Linked DNA regions of Homo sapiens. The protein of the gene in region 1 interacts with the protein of each later gene in a pairwise test. Each region holds a gene or a part of one and is shown in the gene's direction. Other genes may lie near its edges. The genes, in order: NR1D1 and APOA4.

What was found.
Region 2: the proteins of NR1D1 (region 1) and APOA4 interact in binary tests that used the Homo sapiens proteins (3 or more experiments, as listed by UniProt).

The regions. Positions count from the first base shown.
Region 1 is NC_000017.11:40,094,668-40,097,627, reverse strand, and holds part of NR1D1 (nuclear receptor subfamily 1 group D member 1), read left to right. Parts: intron 1-224; coding exon 225-563; intron 564-848; coding exon 849-937; intron 938-1,040; coding exon 1,041-1,185; intron 1,186-1,540; coding exon 1,541-2,184; intron 2,185-2,507; coding exon 2,508-2,693; intron 2,694-2,960. UniProt on the Homo sapiens protein: Transcriptional repressor which coordinates circadian rhythm and metabolic pathways in a heme-dependent manner.
Region 2 is NC_000011.10:116,820,452-116,825,060, reverse strand, and holds APOA4 (apolipoprotein A-IV precursor), read left to right. Parts: upstream 1-1,756; 5' UTR 1,757-1,869; coding exon 1,870-1,918; intron 1,919-2,275; coding exon 2,276-2,402; intron 2,403-3,179; coding exon 3,180-4,194; 3' UTR 4,195-4,361; downstream 4,362-4,609. UniProt on the Homo sapiens protein: May have a role in chylomicrons and VLDL secretion and catabolism. Required for efficient activation of lipoprotein lipase by ApoC-II; potent activator of LCAT. Apoa-IV is a major component of HDL and chylomicrons.

The DNA.
Region 1 (2,960 bases):
AAGCAGAAGCTGAAGGTGGCCTGCAAAGGGTCGTAGGTGTTGCTTGGCCATGCCATGTCTACTGTGTGTTGGGGAATTGCTTATTAACTCCAAGATTAGGGGCTCCACATGGTGAACTGAGTGGCCAGCAATGTTTTGGGCAGACAGGTGGGGATGAGCACAGTGGCACCCTAGGTCCGGAGACATGGCGGCTGACACCCCCTTTCCTTTTGTTCTCTCTCCAGGTGGCGTCATCACCTACATTGGCTCCAGTGGCTCCTCCCCAAGCCGCACCAGCCCTGAATCCCTCTATAGTGACAACTCCAATGGCAGCTTCCAGTCCCTGACCCAAGGCTGTCCCACCTACTTCCCACCATCCCCCACTGGCTCCCTCACCCAAGACCCGGCTCGCTCCTTTGGGAGCATTCCACCCAGCCTGAGTGATGACGGCTCCCCTTCTTCCTCATCTTCCTCGTCGTCATCCTCCTCCTCCTTCTATAATGGGAGCCCCCCTGGGAGTCTACAAGTGGCCATGGAGGACAGCAGCCGAGTGTCCCCCAGCAAGAGCACCAGCAACATCACCAGTGAGTACCTTTCCAGCTGATTCGGGGGAAGGGAAGCAGGCCAGGGCCAGATTGGGAATGGGTTTTTACGTGACACCAGTCTTGCCAGGACCTATTCTGGCTTCAGGGATTTCTCCTAGAGTGGCACCAGCCCCTCTTCAGCCCAGTTTTGTCACTCCAGTGCCCCTCAACACTGGAGTTCCTCCTTAGCTTTTCCCTCCCTGGATCTCCGGCCCAGAAAGCCTCCACACCTGTGGCCACTCAGCCTGGCCTCTCCTGCTCACCTGCTGCCCGTCTCTTCCACAGAGCTGAATGGCATGGTGTTACTGTGTAAAGTGTGTGGGGACGTTGCCTCGGGCTTCCACTACGGTGTGCACGCCTGCGAGGGCTGCAAGGTGAGGCGGACTGGGGGTAAGGGCAGGGGCAGGTGGCCCCCTCCCCCTGGACACAGAGGCCCAGCCATGATGGAGGTGGTCACTAACCACCCCTGCCCTCCAGGGCTTTTTCCGTCGGAGCATCCAGCAGAACATCCAGTACAAAAGGTGTCTGAAGAATGAGAATTGCTCCATCGTCCGCATCAATCGCAACCGCTGCCAGCAATGTCGCTTCAAGAAGTGTCTCTCTGTGGGCATGTCTCGAGACGGTGAGGCAGCATCCCCACATCCTCCCCCCTTCTTCCGCCCAAAGTTTCTGAATTAATCCTTCCCTTTAAAAAAGTCACAAATGGAGACACATCATACTGTGAATCACATGTGCCAGGGGATGTCCATCCTTCATTTGCTTGGGTCAACATATACTTCTATCCCATTGGTCCCTCGGGTCACCTCCTACCAGCAATCCCTCCTAGGGAAACCCCCTTGATGGGTGGGGACTTGCTGGTTTTAGTTTTGATGTGAAACCCCAAGCCTTCAGGGCCTTGCCCTTTCAGGAGGAAGGAAGGAAGAGAAGCACGTGAGCATGGTTGAGAACTTCCTGATGCTGTTCTCATCCTGTTGCAGCTGTGCGTTTTGGGCGCATCCCCAAACGAGAGAAGCAGCGGATGCTTGCTGAGATGCAGAGTGCCATGAACCTGGCCAACAACCAGTTGAGCAGCCAGTGCCCGCTGGAGACTTCACCCACCCAGCACCCCACCCCAGGCCCCATGGGCCCCTCGCCACCCCCTGCTCCGGTCCCCTCACCCCTGGTGGGCTTCTCCCAGTTTCCACAACAGCTGACGCCTCCCAGATCCCCAAGCCCTGAGCCCACAGTGGAGGATGTGATATCCCAGGTGGCCCGGGCCCATCGAGAGATCTTCACCTACGCCCATGACAAGCTGGGCAGCTCACCTGGCAACTTCAATGCCAACCATGCATCAGGTAGCCCTCCAGCCACCACCCCACATCGCTGGGAAAATCAGGGCTGCCCACCTGCCCCCAATGACAACAACACCTTGGCTGCCCAGCGTCATAACGAGGCCCTAAATGGTCTGCGCCAGGCTCCCTCCTCCTACCCTCCCACCTGGCCTCCTGGCCCTGCACACCACAGCTGCCACCAGTCCAACAGCAACGGGCACCGTCTATGCCCCACCCACGTGTATGCAGCCCCAGAAGGCAAGGCACCTGCCAACAGTCCCCGGCAGGGCAACTCAAAGAATGTTCTGCTGGTAAGGGCATGGGGGCGGGCGAGTGCGTTAAGAAGATTGGGGGGGCCTGGCAGAATGGACTTAGTGTAGGGCAGCTGGGGGTTCCTGGAGGCTGAGTGTGGGGATAGCATCTTCCCAGGAGAAAATGTCTTGCCTTGCAGTCTGGACTCTGCCTGGGAATCCCTAATCTCCACCTGGCACCTAATTGCTACTTTATCTGAAAGACCCATCCTTCAGGGCCACAGCCCCTAGCCCAGGCAGAATCTGGGGTCCAGCTCTGCTCGGGGCGTCCATCTGACCCAGCCTGGCTGACACTCCCCTCCTTCAATCTTTTCCTCCCCCAGGCATGTCCTATGAACATGTACCCGCATGGACGCAGTGGGCGAACGGTGCAGGAGATCTGGGAGGATTTCTCCATGAGCTTCACGCCCGCTGTGCGGGAGGTGGTAGAGTTTGCCAAACACATCCCGGGCTTCCGTGACCTTTCTCAGCATGACCAAGTCACCCTGCTTAAGGCTGGCACCTTTGAGGTGAGTGACCGTTTATGCTTCTGGTTTTTGTTTTTTTTGAGACAGAGTTTCGCTTGTCGCCCAGGCTGGAGTGCAATGGTGCGATCTCCACTCACTGCAACCTCCACCTCCTGGGTTCAAGCAATTCTCCTACCTCAGCCTTCCAAGTAGCTGGGATTACAGGTTCCCGCCACCACGCTTGGCTAATTTTTATATTTTTATTAGAGACAGGGTTTCGCCATGTTGGCCAGGCTGGTCTCAAACTCCTGACCCCAGGTGATCTGCCCG
Region 2 (4,609 bases), on another chromosome or scaffold:
GGCGGGCGGATCACGAGGTCAGGAGATCGAGACCATCCTGGCTAACACGGCGAAACCCCATCTCTACTAAAAATACAAAAAAAAAAAAAAAAATTAGCCGGGCGTGGTGGCGGGCGCCTATGGTCCCAGCTACTTGGGAGGCTGAGGCAGGAGAATGGCGTGAACCCGGGAGGCAGAGCTTGCAGTGAGCCGAGATCGTGCCACTGCACTCCAGCCTGGGTGACAGAGCAAGACTCCATCTCAAAAAAAAAAAAAAAAAAAAAAATATATATATATATATATATATATTTTTTTTTTTAAATTGCATCTGTGGGCCGGGTGCAGTGGCTCATGCCTGTAAGCCCAGCATTTTAGGAGGCAGAGATTGGAGGATCACTTAAGGCCAGGAGTTGGAGACCAGCCTGAGCAACATAGCGACACCCCATCTCCATTAAAAACAATGTTTTAAAAAAATTGCATCTGGGCAGGGCGCAGTGGCTCACGCCTATAAGCCCAGCACTTTGGGAGGCCCACATGGGAGGATTGCTTGAGGCCAGGAGTTGGAGACCAGCCTGAGCAACATGGTGAAACCCCGTCTCTGCTGTAAATACACAAATTAGCTGGGCGTGGTGGTGGGTGCCTGTAATCCCAGCTACTCAGGAGGCTGAGGCAGGAGAATCACTTGAACCTGGGGGGCAGAGATTGCAGTGAGCTAAGATCGTGCCACTGCACTCCAGCCTGGGTGACAGAGTAAGACTCCATCTCAAAAAAAAAAAAAATTGCACCTGTACTAAACATATACAGACTTTTTTGGTGATTACCTCCTAAACAATACAGTATAACAACCATTCACACAGCATTTCCGTCGTATTAGGTATTATAAGTAATCTAGAGATTTAAAGTATGTGGGAGGCTGTGCTTAGGTTATATGCAAATACTATGCCATTTTATATCAAGGACTTGAACATCCATGGATTTTGGTATCTGCAGAGGGTCCTGGAATCAATTTCCCATGGAGACTGAGAGATGACCGTACTACCCACTTCGCAAGCAATGTCTTCTTTAATGTACTGAACCATCCCATTGTTCAGAGGAGAAACTGAAGCTCAGGGCTTTGAATAACTAGACCAAGGAGGCACAGCATGGGAGTGGGACATGAAGCACTCTACAATTAACCCTTTCAGGACAAGGCCCTGTCTCCCACACCCATCTGCCCAAAGGCTCTCCAGGGCCCCCTCCTCTTGGGTGTACCTTGACAAGAGACCTAGATTTTAGCTCACTATGCTGTCTGCAGTCCTGGATGGTCCCACTCCAGTGTCTGGTGCTCTGAGATGGAGTCAGCATTAGTGGCGGATGTGGAGACTGGGGGGACCTGTCTTCACTGGGGTAGACAGAGGAGATGTGGACTTTGCCCCCCATGAGCCCGGCACAAACCCAGAGCCGCCAGCAGGGCCTCGAGGCATCAGTCCCGGGCTCATGGGCTCCCTGAGGTGTTTCTCCTACTGTTTTCCGTTCCCCTCCTCCCTTCCATGCTGAGGTTGGTGGGGTGGGGGTGGGGGTGCCCACGCACGGAACAGCCACCACTTCTAACTATCGCCTGAGCCCTGATCTGCTGTCAGCTTCCACGTAGTCTCAGGGTCACAAAAGTCCAAGAGGCCTCTTGGGAATGTGTCACCTTCCAGCGTGGAGTCACACTGAGGAAGGAGGAGGGGAGGGCAGCCAGGGGGGTGGCGATAGGGAGAGAGTTTAAATGTCTGGCTGGCTCTGAGCTTCAGTCAGTTCCCACTGCAGCGCAGGTGAGCTCTCCTGAGGACCTCTCTGTCAGCTCCCCTGATTGTAGGGAGGATCCAGTGTGGCAAGAAACTCCTCCAGCCCAGCAAGCAGCTCAGGATGTTCCTGAAGGCCGTGGTCCTGACCCTGGCCCTGGTGGCTGTCGCCGGTGAGTAGAAGCTGTCTTTGGATGGCACTCCTGGGCTGCTGCTCTGAGTAGTGCAGGATGGAGGCTGAGCCAAAGCAAAAGGACACTTCTGAGTGCCCATCAGCCCCCAGCTGGACATGAGGTCTGCCTGGCTGCCAAGTGGCTCACAGGAGAGCTGGCCCAGTCCCAGTGGTGGGCCCATTGGCATTGGTGCTATACCAGTTTCACATATCCCTGTGGCTTCCAAAAAGCTAAGCTCAGACAGGGAAAATGGCAGGTTGAGGCACCCCCACCATCATCCAGTCTGCAGCTCAGAGCTGGAGCAGAGGGGCCACACAGGAGACGGGGCCTCATGAATTGCTCTCTGTTACCACCCAGGAGCCAGGGCTGAGGTCAGTGCTGACCAGGTGGCCACGGTGATGTGGGACTACTTCAGCCAGCTGAGCAACAATGCCAAGGAGGCCGTGGAACATCTCCAGAAATCTGAACTCACCCAGCAACTCAAGTAAGAGGGACTACAGTGTGCGGTGGTGACGGGGAATTCTTAAAGGCCATGCAATGTACTGGCAAGGGTTGAGCTTAGAGACAGGAGCCCTGAGCTTAGGATACCCACTGCCCTGCCACTAACTGGCCGGGCCTCTGAACCTAGGATCCACATATGTAAACCGGAAGTTTGGACCGAATAATCCCTGCCATGTCCTTTTGCTTTGACGTTCTAGAGTTTGACAAATGGCCACATCCTATCATTCAGGCTCATGGAAGAGAGGGAGGGAGGAAAATGTCACGTGAGCTGATTTCTAATACGTTTCAGAAAGACAGGCCCCAGTGGAATCAAGGGGAGGGAGGTGGGAATATTTGGGAGGCCCCTGGGCACAGGCAAGGAAAGCAGCACCTTGTGCCACTGGAAGACCCCAGCAGAGGTCAAGAAGACAACATTGTGTTACACAATGTGATCCTATGGCCCAGAACACTCCCTCTGGGAAGGACCTCAAAGTCCCACCCTCTGCAGACAAGGAGGGGAAAGCAAACTGCTGGAGGTGACATGGTGGGTAGATTCTGAGACAAACTATGTGGGAGATCCTGAGATAGAAATTCAGCATCGTAACTTAGTCTGTGACACCCATCCTCTCCAATCTGCACCACCATAGGGAGGGTGAACTCGGTACCTCTGAGCACTCACCTGTCCTAGCACGTGTGCATAAGGCGAGTGGTATACAAGCAGACAAAGTCTTGCCGTGTAAATGCCAAATGTAACGTGGCCTCCTTGTGCCCTTCCCCACAGTGCCCTCTTCCAGGACAAACTTGGAGAAGTGAACACTTACGCAGGTGACCTGCAGAAGAAGCTGGTGCCCTTTGCCACCGAGCTGCATGAACGCCTGGCCAAGGACTCGGAGAAACTGAAGGAGGAGATTGGGAAGGAGCTGGAGGAGCTGAGGGCCCGGCTGCTGCCCCATGCCAATGAGGTGAGCCAGAAGATCGGGGACAACCTGCGAGAGCTTCAGCAGCGCCTGGAGCCCTACGCGGACCAGCTGCGCACCCAGGTCAGCACGCAGGCCGAGCAGCTGCGGCGCCAGCTGACCCCCTACGCACAGCGCATGGAGAGAGTGCTGCGGGAGAACGCCGACAGCCTGCAGGCCTCGCTGAGGCCCCACGCCGACGAGCTCAAGGCCAAGATCGACCAGAACGTGGAGGAGCTCAAGGGACGCCTTACGCCCTACGCTGACGAATTCAAAGTCAAGATTGACCAGACCGTGGAGGAGCTGCGCCGCAGCCTGGCTCCCTATGCTCAGGACACGCAGGAGAAGCTCAACCACCAGCTTGAGGGCCTGACCTTCCAGATGAAGAAGAACGCCGAGGAGCTCAAGGCCAGGATCTCGGCCAGTGCCGAGGAGCTGCGGCAGAGGCTGGCGCCCTTGGCCGAGGACGTGCGTGGCAACCTGAGGGGCAACACCGAGGGGCTGCAGAAGTCACTGGCAGAGCTGGGTGGGCACCTGGACCAGCAGGTGGAGGAGTTCCGACGCCGGGTGGAGCCCTACGGGGAAAACTTCAACAAAGCCCTGGTGCAGCAGATGGAACAGCTCAGGCAGAAACTGGGCCCCCATGCGGGGGACGTGGAAGGCCACTTGAGCTTCCTGGAGAAGGACCTGAGGGACAAGGTCAACTCCTTCTTCAGCACCTTCAAGGAGAAAGAGAGCCAGGACAAGACTCTCTCCCTCCCTGAGCTGGAGCAACAGCAGGAACAGCAGCAGGAGCAGCAGCAGGAGCAGGTGCAGATGCTGGCCCCTTTGGAGAGCTGAGCTGCCCCTGGTGCACTGGCCCCACCCTCGTGGACACCTGCCCTGCCCTGCCACCTGTCTGTCTGTCTGTCCCAAAGAAGTTCTGGTATGAACTTGAGGACACATGTCCAGTGGGAGGTGAGACCACCTCTCAATATTCAATAAAGCTGCTGAGAATCTAGCCTCAACTGGTTGCCGGATGAATCCTCCTTGCAGCTGGGGAGGTGGGGAGGTAACCATGACTGGGCAGAGCTTAGCAGCGGCCTGGCAGGAGACACCCAGGATTGGGGAGATGAGACTGCAGGAGAGGTAAGGGCCTGGTGGACTGGAGGCGAGTACATGGGGAGTCCTCTAAGGGGAGGCAGAAAAAGATGTCACACATTATCCCAAGACAAAATATGCAACCTACTTATATTCATTTAGCCAACAAATATGC